Homo sapiens: one gene and its partners. The protein of the gene in region 3 interacts with the protein of the main gene of each other region in a biochemical or structural test. Each region holds a gene or a part of one and is shown on either strand. Other genes may lie near its edges.

Region 1 (7,000 bases), on a different chromosome or scaffold from region 3:
TAGCAGAGAACTAGTGCATTCAACATTCTACCTGTGGGGCAGGAGGGGCTCCACAGGCAAGGTGTCTTGTGGTGTCCCCACCTACATCTACCCAGCTTGCCTGTCATGCAAGGAGCTTACACTTAAATGCCACCTTTGGTTAAACCCTCAAAGAAACAGGAAGGTAGAGGACTCCACAGAAAACAGTTCCAAGGGTACCCTTTGCTCATCTCTGCCAAAGAAACCACAAAGACCTTCCTGGGGCACACAGGGACCCTGGTCTGTATATGTGACTTGGGAGTTATGCACCAATTATCATTCTTTTCTTAAAACAACCATAAGACACATTTTAAATGCTTTTGGGAAGCTTGTCATTCAAAAGAGTTACTCCAGTTAACTCACTTTAAGCAAGAAATAATTTTAAGCAACAAATAATCTTTTACCAATTTAACAGTTTTATAAAGTTGGGGTTTTATGTATCAGGATATGCTGTATTTTCAATCTTGAATAATAATAATAATCTTGGGCCAGGCACGATGGTTAAGGCCTGTAATCCCAGCACTTTGAGAGACTGAAGTGGGAGGATCACTTGAGGCTAGGAGGTCAAGTCCAGCCTGGGGAAACATCCTATCTCTACAAAAGATTAAAAAAAAATTCACCTGTCATGGTAGCATGTGCCTGCAGTCCTAGCTGAGGACTAGCTGAGGCAGGAAGATCACTTGAGCCCAGGAGTTTGAGGCTGCAGTGAGCTATGATTGAGCCACTGTACTCCCATCTGGGTGACAGAGCAAGATCCTGTCTCTAAAAATATTTTTTTAAATAAAAACATTAAAATAAATAAAAATAAACTTGGATATTAATAACGATAATGATGATGATAATTGCCAACGTTACAGGCCAAGCAGACGAGGAGTCTGGCACAGGATGGGCCCCCACGGTTGTAGAATCAGTGAGAAAAGCCTTACAGACTGAAAGAAGAATACTTCCAAAAAAATCCGAATCCTACGGTGATTTTTTTTTTTTGAGACAGAGTCTCGCTCTGTTGCCCAGGCTGGAGTGCAATGGCACGATCTTGGCTCACTGCAACCTCCACCTCCCAGGTTCAAGCGATTCTTCTGCCTCAGCCTCCCGAGTAGCTGAGACTACAGGTGCCCACCACCATGCCAGGCTAATTTTTGTATTTTTTAGTAGAGATGGGGTTTCACCATGTTGGCCAGGCTGGTCTTGAATTCCTGACCTTGTGATATGCCCACCTCAGCCTCCCAAAGTGCTGGGATTACAGGCGTGAGCCACTGCGCCCGGCTCCTACAGTGATTTTAAAAATCAGATCCTACATTTCAAATGAAAACTTGTTAAGGTCAAAACAGTAAAACCTCAAATTCCCTTGTCTGGGGCCAGATCTTGAGGTCAAAAGGAAAATAAACACGACTGCAGGCCCAGGCAAACCACAAGGCTGGCGCTGCTCCACATCCTTCGGGAGGCCTGGAGCCATGTGGGCTCCACTCCCCAAGGGAGGCTGTAGCTGGCTTCAGGGCAACTGAAGCTCTGGGAGCAGCTGGGGCCCCATCTGGCTTCCAGGTCAACTTTGTTCTAAGCTTTTCTCTGCACCTGGAAGTGCTCCTGGTTTCTGCTGAAAGGGCACATGGAGAATGAGCCTTGAAGGCTTCATATGACACCCTACAGCTTTCAGCTCTCTTGCCTGCGGCTCTACTGGCCTGGCTGGCCCATGGGGACAGTAGTCACTGGGACATGTTCCTTGGCAAAGGGTCACCACTGGCTGCCGGGATAGAAAAGCAGAAGAACCAGGCTGCAGAGCTGTGCATGATTAAGTGCAAATAACTGAAGTGCAAGCAGCAGCCATCTGGGTTGAGGATAAAGGAAACATCAGAGTGGCTTACAGCCACCAGTGCTGTCACCAGGGCTCTATGGACAGTGGCAAGTATGGCACAGGCAATAAAACTGTCTGCAGCACCATTTTTGAAGAATACAAACAGGACAGGTACATATGCAGAGGCATAGTCCTCCAGCCTGGCCTGCGGACACATTTCAGGAAGGTACTTCTCCAGACGTGGGGTTTTCCAGCCTCCCTTATGGAATCAGAGGATGGCCAGTGGTGCTCTAAGTCAGGCCTGGTCCTCCTCCAACACTGTCCTTTATAAAGGGAGAGGTACAAAGGGAGAAGAAAGCACTGCAGTGTGAGTCCAACTTGCCCCAAACCAGTTTCCCTCCAGAGCAAACCAGAGAAACCAGAACTATGCACAGCTCTCTTCAGGTGTGTGAGGGCTGTAACGGCTACAGATTGAAAATGGAAAAACATCCCCTGATGCCTGCATCCTCTCAGGTCAGTGTGTTACCTCTGTGCCTATTTAAAAATAACCACAGAATGACTTTTCTAAGGTTATTCATTCACACGTGGATAGGTTTGTACAGATTAACACATTTAGTCTTTCTAAAGAAAAATAATTGGAATCTCTGAGGCTAACATGCATATTTAGTTTTATCTTCACATGTAATTATTTTTACAGCAACTTGTTGGAAGTGGCCTCTCAGCAGCTCTCACCTTAAAATAAATCATAGGAAATTTGTATGATTCTTCAAGAGCCACCGATGCACTGGTTGAGGTGGTTTTTTAATGAACCACCTGTGATAAACTCATAATAGCAAAGTGACCTGAGGTTCAAAAGTTGGACCAAAACAAACCGTCATTTAAACTAGGACTCATGGGTCAAATCTGGCCCTCTGCCTGTTTTTATAAAGTTTTACTGGATCACAGCCATGCCCATTTATTTGAGTGTTGTCTATGGCTGCTTTCACAATACAATGGCAGAGTTGAACAGTTGCAAGAGACTGTAGGGCCTGCAAAGCCTGAAATATTTACCACTGGCCCTTTACAGAAAAGGTTAGCCAACCTTCATCCAAAGCGAGGTCCCTAGACTGCAGGACTGGCATCACCTGGGTGCTTGTGGCAACTGGAGAGCCTCAGACTGCACCCCAAAGGAATCTGTGTTTGAACAAGATCTCCAGGTGATTCTGATGCAAGCTAAAGCATGAGAAACTTAAATGGCCAAACAAAATCCCTGGGGAATGTGTTAAAAATGAAGATGCCGATTTATTAAGTCTGGGGTGGAGCCCAGGATTCTGCATTTCTAAGAAACTCTCAGGTGATGCTGATGCTGCTGGTCCTCGGACCACACTTTGAGTAGCAAGGGTCTGGTATTTTACCCTGGCATTATCTACCAGCAAAATTACCAATGGCACTTGCTGGAAAAGTTTCAAAAGGGGCAGCCAGACTATTACTAAACAGTTCAACAACAACAACTACAACAACAGATGTTGGTGAGGATGCAAAGAAAAGGGAACACTTATACACTGTTGATGGGAAGATAAATTAGTACAATCAAAAAAGCAGTATCGAGATTTCTCAAAGAACTAAAAATAGAACTGCCATTCCATCCAGCAATCACACTAATGGGTATATACCCAAAGGGAAAGAAGTATTGTATAAAAAATATACCTGCACTGGTAAGTTTATTGCAGCACTATTCACAACAGCAAAGATAGGGAATCAACTTAAGTGTCCATGAATGGATGACTGGTTATAGAAAATGTGGTATATATATATATATACACACACACACACACCATGGAATATTACTCAGCCATAAAAAAGAATTAAATTATGTCTTTTGCAGCAACATGGATGGAAATGAAGTCCATTTCCCTAAGTGAAATAACTCATAAGTAGTCAACTACTGCATGTTCTCACTTATAAGTGGGAGCTAAGTAATGGGTACCCATAGGCATAAAGAGTGGAATTAACAGACATTGGAGACTCCAAAATGTGGGAGGGGGGTGAGGGTTGAAAAGTTACCTGTTGGGTACCATGTTCACTATTGGGTACACTAAAAGCCCAGATTTCATCACGATACAATATATTCATATAAGAAGTCTGCACTTGTACCCCCTAAATACATAAAAATAAAAACAGTCTCTTGTAGACAGCCAAAAGGGGGGGCAGCCAGATTGTCATGAGGACACCAATTCAAATGCTTTCCTTTTTCCTTTTTTTTACCCAAAATCAGATGTCAACAATTCAAATGCTTCTAAATGCATCCACAAGTGCGGTTCATTAGGGCTTACCTTTTTCAGTATTTCTGTGTTCAGCAGCATGTAAATGTCTATAGTACGACTTTCTTCTTTAGCAAGAGCACTAAAGTTACAGTGTGCTGTTAGGCAAGAAATTCCTGGTTTTTCACAGTCCTGAGAAGAAAAGTCAGAAAAATTTCCAATGGAATTAAGAACAAAGACAAATCCACAACAATTTACAGAGTAGTGGGCTCCATGAACTTGGTGACTAAGGCAATTCCAGGCAGAGGAAATCCACAAGAAGATGCAATCGTTCTTTCTCGCCACCAGAGGGCATTCAAGGGATTTCCCACCCAGTGGGAACCAGAGCATGCCTTTAAGTCAAGCAACTGGGAGAAAACAGCTCACTAATTTATCCTACCAAGAATTGGATGAATTCACAAAGAGAAATAATTGTTTTTTTTTTTAAACCCACAAACTTAAATTTTGCATTCTGAAAGCATTCTTATGAGTTTTGAACACAGACACGTTTCCTACATTATGTGACTTCCACCTGTGTAGTGGCAAATATACTTTCATGCCTATTTATTAGGTAGGTGAATAAGAGGGCTAAGAAGTCATGTGACACTTCCTCAAGAAAACACAAAAGTTACAATAGAGACGTAAATCTCGGCTGGGCGCAGTGGCTCACGCCTGTAATCCCAGCACTTCGGGAGGCTGAGGTAGGGGGGTCACCTGAGATCAGGAGTTCAAGACCAGTTTGGCCAACATGGTGAAACCCTGTCTCTACAAAAAATACAGAAGTTAGCCAGGCATAGTGGTGGCCGCCTGTAGTCCCAGCTGCTGGGGAGGCTGAGGCGGGAGAACTGCATGAACCCGAGAGGCAGAAGCTGCAGTGAGCCGAGATCATGCCACTGCACTCCACCCTGGGCGACAGAGCAAGACTCCATCTCAAAACAAACAAACAAACAAAAAACCAAAAACATAAATCCCAAATTTAAGTTACAAAAGTTTTCTTTTTTATATGATAGGTTCCAAAATGCGTATACATACCTTGATGATGTTTCATCTATACGGCAAAATTTTCAGCCAGACAGAGTCGTAACTATAAAATCACTAGGTATCACTACATCTAACAAGTCTAAGGGCTTTCAACAATATCACCCTCACTATGTAAGTAAAAAAAAAAAAAAAAAAAAAAAACCCAACCTTTCAAGTGGCAAACAGTCACCCTTCTCCAACAGGAGAAAAGAATGAGAAAGGAAATGATAAAGGTGAGATGTGCCAGGGCTGAAATAAGGAGCTTAGAGAAATGTAACCAAAGATAAAAAAAAGGAGGCTTTGGAAAGCATTGTCATTCCATCTTCAATACCTGCACTTTTTAAAAATGGAGGTGTAACAAATATAGTAAATAGAACAAATCTGAAGTGTGTGTCTTTATAATTTTTTTTTTTTTTTGAGACAGAGTCTTGCTCTGTTGCCCAGGCTGGAGTACAGTGGCACGATCTTGGCTCACTGCAACCTCTGCCTCCCTGATTCAACCGATTCTCCTGCCTCAGCCTCCCTAGTAGCTGGGATTACAGGCGCCCACTACCACATCCAGCTAATTTTTGTATTTTTAGTAGATACAGGGTTTCACCATGTTGGCCAGGCTGGTCTCAAACTCCTGACCTCAGGTGATCCACCCCCTCAGCCTCCCTAAGTGCTGGTATTACAGGCATGAGCCACCGTGCCCGGCCTGTCTTTAAAAATTTTTACATGTGTTTATACCTGGAGGACTACCACCCTGATTAGGATGTAGGACATTTCCAGCATCTAAGCAGGCTCCCTCATGCCCCATCCCATCCACATTCCTCTGAAAGTAACCACCTTCTTGACCTCTATCATCATGATTAGTTTTTGCTATTTCTGAACTTCGTATAAGTGAAATATTACAATATGTGGCTTTTGTCTCTAGCTTCTTCCACTCAATATATTCTGTCTGTGAGATTCATTCATTAGCAGTAGTTTGTTATTTTTCATTACTGTGTAATATTCCAGTGTATGGATATACCACAATTGCTTACTTATTCTCCTATTGATGGATATCTGCATTGTTCTCAGCTTTCAGCTATTTTAACATTTCTGTGAGCATCCTTTTTCATGTCTTTTCTGGGAAGCACAAGTACTCATTTTTCTTGGGGATATACTCAAGAGTAGAATGGCTGTGTCATAGGATACACACGTTTTGTTTTAGTAGATATTATCAAACAGTTTCCCAAAATGTTTGCACAAGAATAATCACTCTTGTTTAGACTCATTCTAGTGGAAGAAACATTTTACTTTGTGCTTGGTGGGTTGCAAAGATTTATCCCTTTTCCAGGTAATAGGATTTGGAATGTAAATTTAACATTTTGATTGAAACCTCAGACTGAAAATTAGGAGTTGACCACAGTCTGTGCCTTTGTAAGTCAAATTGATTAAAACCAGATTTAGGAAATAATAAATATCAAATAGAAAACTGGTGTCTTCCGAGTGAGGACCACCCGTGTTACCCCAACCACTAAACAAATCCTTACCAAGACTTTTCTTCCAGACTTTGTGAAAAAAGCAAATATTGTGTGGAAGATATTTTCTTGTTCTTGAGGGATGATGCAGGGAGTTGGGTTTTTCTGGAAAGAGCAGTTTCCCTTCTCTTGGCCCACCTGCAAATGAAAAGAGGCCTGTCAGAGGAGTCATTCTCAAGAATGAATCATGATGCTGGAGCCTCTTATTGTAGAGGCAGGAGTGGTAGAACCCCAATTCACCTTTCCTCCTTGTCCATTTTGAAGTGGAGAACAATGGCTGAAAAGCTGAAAGGCAGAAGTTGTAGCATCAACAGGGCCAAATAATAGAAAATGTGGATCTTAGGTCCCCCAATAATTGATGAGATGGCATATAACATGCAAATGAGATG
Region 2 (3,216 bases), on a different chromosome or scaffold from region 3:
CCTGCCCACGAGAGCTACAAGGGAGGGGCCTGCCTGCCTAACTCCAGGCCAGGCCTGCCGAATGCCTCCTGCTAGGCCATCTGGAGCCAGATTCTCTCTCTCTCTCTCTGTGGTGTGTATGTGTGTGTGTGTGTCTCCCAGGCCACGTGGGTGGCTGGGAGCTGTGGGGTTGTGACCTGGCCCTCCTGGCGAGCCTCTGACTTGCCTGTGGTCAGTTTCACTTCTGACATCTGGTCAAGTTCACAGCTGGCTAGCTTCCTGCGTGGCCATTTTCACTTTCCCTCTCCAAGATCTGGGAGCAAAGGGCCCCTTCTCCTTCCCCACCTCACCCCATAGTGATACATGGGAACTTACTGGATTTCTGTTAAAACTTCCCCTTTTGGTGTGGGGGAAAAGAGGGCAGGAATTGACCGAATTGGAAATTATACCTGGGTCCCTGCCACACACCCAATCCCAAACAATTCAAACCATGTGTATTTCCAGAAAATCTCTTTGTACTATTTTTCTTTCTTTGCTATTTAATGTTCATCACTTAACGTTTTGTGTGTAAGTTTCAGGAGGGCCCAAGAAATGATTACACAGGAGGCAAGGAGGGGAGGTGATAGGAGGGTTGCTGGGGGTCTGGAGCTCATGGCCCCCAGCTCGGGGGCCAAAAGGGTTCCATCTCAGCTCAAGGGGAGTAAAAAGGGGCCCCAGAACCAAACACATGCTAAAACATACTTGCAAGCCCCCAAACCCCCTCCCCACCTGCTGGGGAGGAAAATAAATACACCCAGACTCTGTCCCACTCCCCAGGTGCCCAGGTGAGGGGCCAGCAGGTGAGTTTCCTCCCCTCATCACAGGTTGAGGTCAAAGAATTGCCATTTACTACAGTGCTCCTAGTCCCTTCCACAGGGCTGGGGGAACCCTGGGCTGGGGAGCGGTGGTTGTCAGCGCACAGCCTGCCTGGGGCTTGTCATGCTAAATAGAGGGGAGCCACACTCACTCCAACTTCAGGCAAAACAGAACAGGCCAGGGAGGGGGTGGAAAGTCCACTGAGGCCTCATGGCCCCCTTCTGGCCAAGCTCAGGAAAAAACAGTCCTTTGCAGGGTTGTCTAGAGCTGGGAGAAATCCCCACAGGTCACAGTCGAAGTCAATTCCTTCTTGCCGCATTCCCACACTGGCCCACTTTTCTTCATCACAACCTTCTGGGCCCAGCCAACCCCATGTTTGCAGGGAAGGGGAGGATGGGGGAGCATTCCTCCACGTGTAAGCCCTTGAAGACAGACGCCAGCTCCAGCCTCGGTCGGCAGTCCTTGGCCCGCCAAACCCGGGGGCGAGTGAAGACGGCCGAGCAGACCTCAATTCCCTCCGATGCTTCTCTGGCAGCTGCCCCGGGCAGTATCCAGTCTCAGCCCAAGAGAAAAAACTCATGGAGAAAAGTGAGATTTCTCCTCCTGTGTGTGTGTGTGCGTGTGTCTGTGTGTTGCAAGGTGAGGGGTCCTTGGTCCCTGACCCCTAGGCTGATTCTAGGGGCCAGTGTTAGCTCCGGGTCCATGTCGGGATGGAGGGCAGCAGACTGGAGCCATGCCACTGATGTCACACAGGCATGCCTGAGAGGGACAGGCAGAGGGAAGCAGCACCCTTTCCACGAACCCCAAACCTGACTCCATCATGGACCAGGCCCTAGGCAAGCATCCCATCTCCACGGGTGGGCAGGCAGTGGGGAAGGGGTGGGGGTCTGGAGACAGCGTGGAAGGCAAAGCTGACTTGGCTTCAAGCCATTTCCCAGAAGGTCACCTGCCACCCTCCCCTCGCCCTCAGGCAAACCTGAGGCCCCTCATTTAGAGAAGGCGGTGCCAGCCTGCACTTGGCCTCCCCGTTGCTGTCTGGCTTTGGGCGAATCATGGCCTCTCCCTGGGCCTCACTGACCTATATCCAAAATGAGGGGGGTGGGCTGAGCTTCGAAAACCCCTCCCAGCTCTGACAAGCCTCCGATCCTCTTCATCTTAGGCTGGGGTGGGGGGCAAGAGGGGCTGAGGGAGGGTTGAGGCCACTGGGATGCCACCCTTGTTCCCCAAGTTCACAGTGTAGAGTCCATGGCTCTGGTTCCTCGATTCCTCCCTCTGAGTCTCTGGGGCCTTGTCACTTCCCCCTAGTACCATCCCTGGTGTTGGCCCCCCATATATGACACCTGCTGTGGTGGGAGGGGCTGGCCCACCTAGCAGTGTGGGAGAAGGGGGCAGGTGGCCTGAGATGGTGACGGGGCAGGGGCAGGGTTGGGGAGGCAGCAGGGGCACTTCTCTCTCTGGACAGGAAGTGTGGTCAGAAGTGAAGGGGCCACACGGGCTGCACTGACAGGGCTGTGGTTTTGGGGCCTGGACTCTGAGGTCCTGCCCAGAGGAGCTCAGTTCTGCCAGGCGGGCCCCCCCCAAAGGGTGGGGGTGCGGGCTCCACAGGGGTTGGCTGGAGCATCGGTTGTCGGAATGTGGGGCGGGGCGGGGGCTCCCCGGTTGGGCTCACACCGGGGATGTGGCAGTGGACTCACTGCACAGACTCTCCACGAGGTCGGCTCGCTGGATGCGGCGCAGGGCGGCCAGGAGGGCGTCCAGTGTGGCGCTGTCCTGGGTGGCCCAGCTTGCAAGCAGGGCGCGAACGGGGCAGGCCTCATGGGTAAAGGAGTCTATGTGCTCGGGCTGGTAGCCCAGCTCGCCCGCCAGGTGCCGCCAGGTGTCCCCCGCAGAGCCGTTGAGAAGCTTCTCCACCTCCTCCCGCTTGGCTGGGGGCAGGCTGCTGTAGAGGCCTCCGTCACCCTTGAGGGCTGCAGAGAAACCAGAGGAGAGTCAGGTCCTACCCCTGAACTCCTTTCCCCAACAGTGGGCACTGGGGTGAGACCCAAGAAGGGCCGAGGCAGTGCTCCTCCCCATCTGGAGGCCTGGGGCCAAGACAAGGTCCTGGGTGGGGCACCAGGAAGTGAAGGCACCTGGGGGGACTCGTTGTCCCTTCCTCCTGTCACTCCAGCCCAATCCCTATCCCCATCCCTCCTCTCTTCCCCCCCAGCAATTAATCATGGCAGAGGAGGAGATAGGGCTTCTCAGTTCTAGACAACTACAGCAAGTGTCCCGGAGCTGGGCTATGGGCCACTAATTAGGGTACACACTTAACTACTTGTTCCCCAGAAGTCCAGGGCAAGAGGCTAATTGCAGCTACTTTGGGCAATAATTAGCCCCCAGGGG
Region 3 (7,190 bases):
CAAGGGTGAATACAGAATGGGGGCAGGCTAAGCTTCCATGAGAACTAAGAGGTAGGCAGTTTGTCATCACTGATCTGTCCTCAGAGGCTACATTAGCCAGGCTCTCAAGAAAATTGGGACATGTCACCTTTGTGGCCCTAAGGTAGAATCTTGGTGTGGGTCACTCTTTCATGTGCCCTCCACTGGGAACCAAAGGTCTGAGGTCAGTGATAGATTGCCCATTGGGTTGAGGGCTGGAGTTAGGATCAGGGTTTACCTGAAGGTGTCAGCTCCAGCATTCACATTAAGAGCCTTTAAACTGTTTATACCAGGGGAGAAATTGAAACCCTCTGCATTGTGGCAGCCTGGAGCCTCGCTCAGGAGAAAATGTTAGACTCTCTGCTCTGGGCAGAAACTTCTTTAGAATTTTGACAATATCAACATTTTAATGGTATCTTAGCCCTGTTGTTCTTATAAAAATATACTGAAGGGGAAGGATATGATTTTGTGGGATCAGAAGCTCCTGCCAAAGTCACTGAACCCACACTAGGACCAAAGCGTTTACCCCAGTGGCAAGGCCATGAAAGGCCATGCTACCCAATGTCAGTGCCCAGTGACAGGGAGGAGGATGTCTTGTGCCCCTTGGACAATTACTGTTATGGTCATGCTTGGGGAAGAGAATCAAAGAAAGATGGCTTTGCAAGCATGAAATGGGAGAAAGACAGTGCAGAAGGTGGGGCCAAAGACAGGATACGATTATTGTTGCTTCTTTGCTGTGTTTGCCAGAGAAAAAGCAAACCTTAGGGATAAAAACATTGTCAATAGTTCTGATGAGGTTGAGTAGTTACAATGAAGATAAGAAAGAGGGAAGAGGAAGAGGTAGAAGAGGAAAAGAAGAGGAGAAGGAAGTAGAAAGAGGAAGGGAGAAGGGAAAAGAAGAGGAGGAGGAAGAAGAAGAGAAGGAGAGGAAGAAGAGAAGGAGGAGGAATGGGCAAGGGGAAGGCAGATGATGACAGCAGCTCTCACTTACTGAGGGTGTCCTTGGTGGCAGGCACAGAACTTCATAGTATGTACTTCATACATCTATGTATGTACTTCACAGATGTACTTCATACACTTTGTCACTTAATCTACACAACAGCTATACAAGAGAGAAACTAGTCTCACCTTACAGATGAGGACATTGTTGCTTAGAGAACAAAAGTTACCCAAGATCACACAACTGCAAATCACAGAGTTGGGACTTAACCCCAAGCTTGCCTGGCTTCAGAGCCATCCGCTGTTCGAAATCATGCTGTTGTCTATGCCAGTGGCTTTCACACTTTTTTTGACTATGACTTATAGTAAAAAAAATGCATTTTCCATCATGAGCCAGTTTGCATATATATGTATATGTACATACATACAGTACAACTAAAACAAAAGTTTCATAAAAATTTTCCCTTGCTATATCCAATGCATATTAATTTTTGAAAATGTTACTCTATGCTCTTTCATTTTTTTCCCTAATGAGAGTTGCACACTAAGTTGATTTCACAACCTGTATTTTGTTTTCTTTTTTCTTTCTTTCTTTTTTTTTTTTTTTTTTTTTGGAGGCAGGGTCTCACTTATCTTGCCCAGGCTAGAGTGCAGTGGCATGATCATGGCTCACTGCAGCCTCAACCTTCTGGGCTCAAGTGATTCTCCCACCTTAATCTGCTTAGTAGCTAGGACTTACAGGTGTATGTCACCATGCCTGGCTAATTTTTTTATTTTTATTTTTGTACAGATGGGGTCTCACTTTGTTGCTCAGGATGGCCTTAAACTCCTGTCCTCAAGTGATCCTCCCGCCTCAGCCCCCTAAGTGCTGGGATTACAGGCATGGGCCACACACCCGGCCTTCAACTTGTAAAAACATTTTCTGTTCTCTGCTCTATGGCAGTTGATTAGAAGTGTCCTTGAACTCCTGCTTGATCTTAGTGGATGCTGGGCAGCATCTCGCTTCTGAGGCATGCAGCTAATTGTGTACTCTGGACCATCCCTCTGGCAAGAGGACATCATTAATAAAATATTTCAGAAATTACAAATATCTGACAAAGCCATTTGCTTGGAAAAGAGTCAGTCCAGGAAACCATCCAGAATATATAATCACTCATCTCAGGCACTGACTGCTAATATTTTAGGCAATTGATGTATGCTTTAGCAAAAGAAACTATTTTCTCTGTTTTCAGAACCTAAAGAAGTCATCTGTTCTGAAAGGCTACACACAGTCGCCATCTAACAATAAATGGTAAAAGAAAAGAAACATGCAAGGTGTTGTGGTGACTCTATCAATCCACCCTCCAGAGTAGTGCTGTCTTTCTCAATTTGGGGTGAATACAACCAGGATCTGAAATTAGATTGCTTTTCAGAGGAGCATGTACATCTCCACCCTGGTTTGGGATTTCAGGGATGATTTTGTTTCAGCAGCTAGGGGCAGTGGCAGGTTGGTTGAATCACATTTAGGTCATGGAAAGTGAAGTCTGATCAGGTGGCTCAGCTCGAGTCAGCCCTGATGGGCTGTGGACTCGGTGACTTCACTCCAAGCAATGTGCACGCTAATTGAGAAAACATGTTCCTGTGATGGCCTCATGCAAAAATCCAGATTTACGAATTTTTTTTATTCCTAAGAATTCCTTAAATATTTGCCGTGCGTGTCTATACAGCCTCCTGGAGTACTTCTCCTTACTGAGTAGGGTTGTGATTTCTGCTGTGGCCCAGGTCAGGCTTTTAAAGGGTGGGATTCTGACAAAGGGCAACTGGGCAAGCAGCCACAGGCCTCGGGGAGAAGCAAGAAGAGGGCAGCAGAGGAGAAAAATAACCCAGACCTCCTGTGCTTTTCCTGGGGCAGAAAAAGCAATTCAAAATCCTTGAAAAGCAATTGTCTGCAATGTCAATGAGGGGGTCCACATCGGGAAGGGGCCTCAGCTTACTGGGCATTGGCTATATTCCAGACTCTGAGGTAAGAACTTTCCAGCACTCTCTCCTTTCCCCTTCACAATTGCCCTCAAAAATCAGTTGGCATCATGATTCCCTTTTACAGATGAAGAAACTGAGGCTTACAGGGGTTAAGTAATGTGCTCACAGAGCTAATGAGAAGTGAACTTGGACCTAAATCCAGTTCTATCTGTGTGCCAGGACTCCTGTAAAATCCTACCTGCCTATGGGACAGCCCCTCACTGCCCTCCGAGGAGCCTCCCTGAAAGCCTTCTTGACATCCAGACCTGTCCCTCTTGGAGGTCATATATTCACAGAATTAGTACTTCCACTAGTTCCAGTTTTGATACTGCTTGCAATTGCTCCATGTGTTAATTCACATAAGAAGATTAAAAAGCCTGCAGACAAATTTTGTTTGGTCTGTACCCATGTGTGGAAAGTGAAGAAATTTCAGAGTTTTGGCTTTTCAGTCTCAAAGTTTTGGCTTTTCTTGAAAAGTTCTTGAAGAGATCTGTATTGGACCTATAATCCTTTACAGCAATGGTTGGCCTGTCCCTTAACAATGAGGCATAGCCTCTCTAGTTTTTCACAGCCCCAGCAATCTCTGGCCTCAGCTCATTTATATTCTCTCATGAGCCACTAAGCCTTTTAGTTATGACTCCTGAGCAAGCTCCTTGGGGCAGGATCATGATTTATATTTATTTTGAGTCCCCAGAGTGCCCAGTGTCCCAGGTAGCATATTAATAAGGATGCTAATTGAGAGAAGAAAATCTATCCAGTAGCCTCATACATGGTGGGCCCCCTCCCCTGTGGGGCGAGGACAATCTTCCCCTTTAACCACAGGTTCTATGTAATTCAGCAACAGCTGCTTAACCCTTGGCTCTTGGTCTGGGAGAGCAGAAATGCCCCACTGCCATAGCAAAATTCACTTTCTCTTTCTTTTCTTGTAAACTTGAAGAATTCCTAAGACATTTAAAATCCTAAAGACACAGAGGAGTTGTTACGTGGAGTAAGGAAGCAAAACATTCTTAAAGCTGCAAGCAAACATGGTCATTCTCAAGAAATGCCTTATTTAGAGAGCATTGCATAACATTTCTGAAATAAGAGTCTGAGGAGAAGTTTGCCTCTGAAAGAAAATTACAGGAGAACCTCCGTGAGTCTTCTCTTACCCAGACATTACAAGGCGAAGATAAATCGCAAGATGAAATGTTTGGTTAAAATTCTATCAAAATGAGAATGTTAACTACAGAAGGTCAAAATATCAGTGAGTAAATTCCTAGAGAAGTCTTCAATGCAACCAAAAAGATTTCTCCTCCCAAAACAGAAAAGCTATATATGCACAGATACATTAAAAACATACAAAAAAGATGTTATCCTACCTGAAATTAAAAAAAAACAACTATGAAGTGGGGGCTCCCCTCAGATCAGCCCTTCCAAGGGAGAACGTGAGGGGAGGAAGCTCATGTTCGTTGGTGCCCCCCTCATGCCAGGCCTGTGCTGCTGTTTTGCCTATGCCTTCCCACTTAATGTGCACAACAGCCAGATGACAGCATAGCTACTACTAATATCTTTGTCTTACAGATGAGAAAACTTAGGGACAGGAGAGGCCCTCCTATGTCTCCACTTTCCTGGAGTACCCCGTCCTTCCCCCTGCTTATCTAGTCCAGCACCTCTCAGGCAGCTAGAAACAGTGTGACTTCTTTTTCTGAAAGTGTTCTCCATAATCCAAAGGGAGCCTGTCCCACTTGGCATCACTCATACACAATGGGGGTTCAATACATATCCATAGTGATGAGGCAGTACCTCAATCGTTGACCTCTCAGCCAGGTCTGCTCAGATCCAAAAATGGGTTGGCATTTCACTAGACTGAGCAAGTGAGACATGCAAGTCACTCCATTACTAATGAGGGTTGTAATCCATCTGTAATGATGAAGAACTGAAGTCAGGACAGTCTCCCCCACCCCCTAACCTGGGCAAGGGCTGAGCTCTTGAGACCATCCTCCCTGGGCTCACTTAGCAACTGCACACAGAGGGGAGGTGACCTATACCACCAACTCTGACTACTGAAGGAGCAGCCAAAGGAAATGGGAAAATCAGCCCATCTGTACTGACAACAAATACTTCGTGGTTATTGGGAAACTGTTCCTGTAGTAGTGGATTGAAATTGCCCAATGTGGAAGGGCTTCTGTGTGAAACTTGGGTGGTTCATTCCCACTGATTTCATAGCCAGCTTCTTTCATTCGCAGGGCTCTCCACCTGCAGAAGCCACCACAGGCGGTGCCAAAAGTGCCAAAACATCTCAATCTGCTTAGCCCAGTGGTGGATTTTCAGGGAAATCCTGACTGTCTGACTCTGACTAATAGTACTACTAAAAAAAAAAAAAAAAAAAAAAAGACTTCCCGCACGTGAATGCGTTGGCTACAGTCTTAGGCAATTCAAAAGCATTGTTGCTAGTTCCACCTGACAGATTTCATCATCAGATCAACCTCATTTGGGGAGGGAGCTCCTTAAGACTTTCTTTCTTTCTCTTTCTTTCTTTCTTTCTTTCTTTCTTTCTTTCTTTCTTTCTTTCTTTCTTTCTTTCTTTTCTTTCTTTCCTTCTTTCTTTCTTTCTTCCTTCCTCCCTCCCCCCTCTCTCTCTTTCTTCATTCCTTCCTTTCTTTTCTTTCTTTCTTTCTCTTTTTCTTTCTTTCTCTCTTCTCTCTCTCTTTCTTTTCTTTTCTTTCTTTTTTTTCCCTCATTTGAAATCAGCGCCAAGCTCTGCAGTTCCTTTTCACTCCTACTTGTAATGAGTTGGGCATGAGTAGAAAGCATGTGTTCCTATAATACCCTCCTACCCTCTGAAGACATTATTCATTTTAACCCTAGGTACTATAAATAAACAAATAGTTCTATTTTCTGTCCCCCAATGAGACCTTGAAGCAGAGGTGAGAATAATGAGCTATTCTACTTGAGAATAAACCCAGTGCCACAAGCACCATCCCTCGAGTGTAGTGTTGCTAGCCTACTTTTTTTCAAGGAAATGTCACGTTATCAATTCTCATTTATTTTCACAGCTTGGGCACAGTTGTATTAATTCGATGTCAATGTGCACTCATGTTGTATTAAGTGCGGTCAGTGTTGGGGGCTTCTGCTTCAGGGAAGGAACCTCCTGATGCCAGAGTGTGATCCACTTAGCAAAGGAGGGAAGGATTTCCTCCCAGTGCTGCAGACTCCACAGGCATGCAGTCTGCCTGTGTTTTTAATAACATATGGCAGAGTAGGAAGCTGCCATGCTCTAATAGCACCTGTCCCTTCACCTTACTCTTTCTGATTTTCTTTTCCCATGGGTCATTTGTAGTCCACTTCACTCACAAAAGGCAAAGGATGACACTTGGTGGGACTACAGCACTGAGGTCCCTGCCGATGGTGGCCTAGAGTCTGATTTGCTGGCTCTTGGAGGATGAAGCCCAGGAATTGACTTCTGGAGCCCCAGTTTGATGATTAACCACAGAAACCCCAACAATAGGGCCCTTATTGGTAATTTCCAAAAGACTTCTCAACTGGGAGCAGCATTATCTTTGAATACACTTAGCCCTTTATGAGGGGCATTTGAGGTTGTCACTATGACTTCTGACATTTAGGAGGTGAGGCAGGAATACTAAACTATCTGCACTGTGCAGATTGGTCACACTTAACCAAGAATTGTCCCAAAATGCTGACAGCTCCATTCAGAAACAATATAAATCCAATATACTTGCCTAATGAGTTGGGAAAGTGAGGCCTGAGAAGCTTAGCGACTTGCTCAAGGTCACAAAGCTACTTCCCTTCCTTTCTCACAAGTGAGGAAACTGTAACAGGAAGTTTACCCAAAATATAGGAGAAGAATATCAAGGGATCATCCTAACATTTTAATCTGATTCCTACTGTGTCCTAGTCTGAGGCCTCAAAAGCATGTAAAGTAGCCCAGAGAGGAGCAATGAAAACATCACGAACCACCAGAAAGTCTTCTCCATTGCATGTTTTCATTCTTCTGGTCTTCACTAAACTTTGTGGCTGAAGGTTTATTCTCCTCGGCTCAAATAGTGACGTTTCTATGCTTCTGCACAGCCTAATAAAAGACCGAGGACCCCAAAGCCTCAGTTTCTCCATTCACATATCAGCCTCAGGATCATCCTGGCCTTACTGCTATTTGGAGTTAGGATCTTAACTATTTTCCCACTGTTATCAAGCGATGTCTCATGGGAATGGATTGGGGAAGGGTCTTTCATCCTCAT

What was found. The genes of interacting proteins can lie anywhere in the genome.
Region 1: the proteins of NGF (region 3) and ITGA9 form a complex in vitro, tested with the Homo sapiens proteins (one study listed by BioGRID).
Region 2: the proteins of NGF (region 3) and NGFR form a complex in vitro, tested with the Homo sapiens proteins (2 studies listed by BioGRID and IntAct, with this or other methods).

The regions. Positions count from the first base shown.
Region 1 is NC_000003.12:37,777,141-37,784,140, reverse strand, and holds part of ITGA9 (integrin alpha-9 precursor), read right to left. Parts: intron 6,750-7,000; coding exon 6,624-6,749; intron 4,240-6,623; coding exon 4,120-4,239; intron 1-4,119. UniProt on the Homo sapiens protein: Integrin alpha-9/beta-1 (ITGA9:ITGB1) is a receptor for VCAM1, cytotactin and osteopontin. It recognizes the sequence A-E-I-D-G-I-E-L in cytotactin. ITGA9:ITGB1 may play a crucial role in SVEP1/polydom-mediated myoblast cell adhesion.
Region 2 is NC_000017.11:49,512,293-49,515,508, reverse strand, and holds the end of NGFR (tumor necrosis factor receptor superfamily member 16 precursor), read right to left. Parts: intron 2,802-3,216; coding exon 2,500-2,801; 3' UTR 501-2,499; downstream 1-500. UniProt on the Homo sapiens protein: Low affinity receptor which can bind to NGF, BDNF, NTF3, and NTF4. Forms a heterodimeric receptor with SORCS2 that binds the precursor forms of NGF, BDNF and NTF3 with high affinity, and has much lower affinity for mature NGF and BDNF.
Region 3 is NC_000001.11:115,328,196-115,335,385, forward strand, and holds part of NGF (beta-nerve growth factor precursor), read right to left. Parts: intron 1-7,190. UniProt on the Homo sapiens protein: Nerve growth factor is important for the development and maintenance of the sympathetic and sensory nervous systems.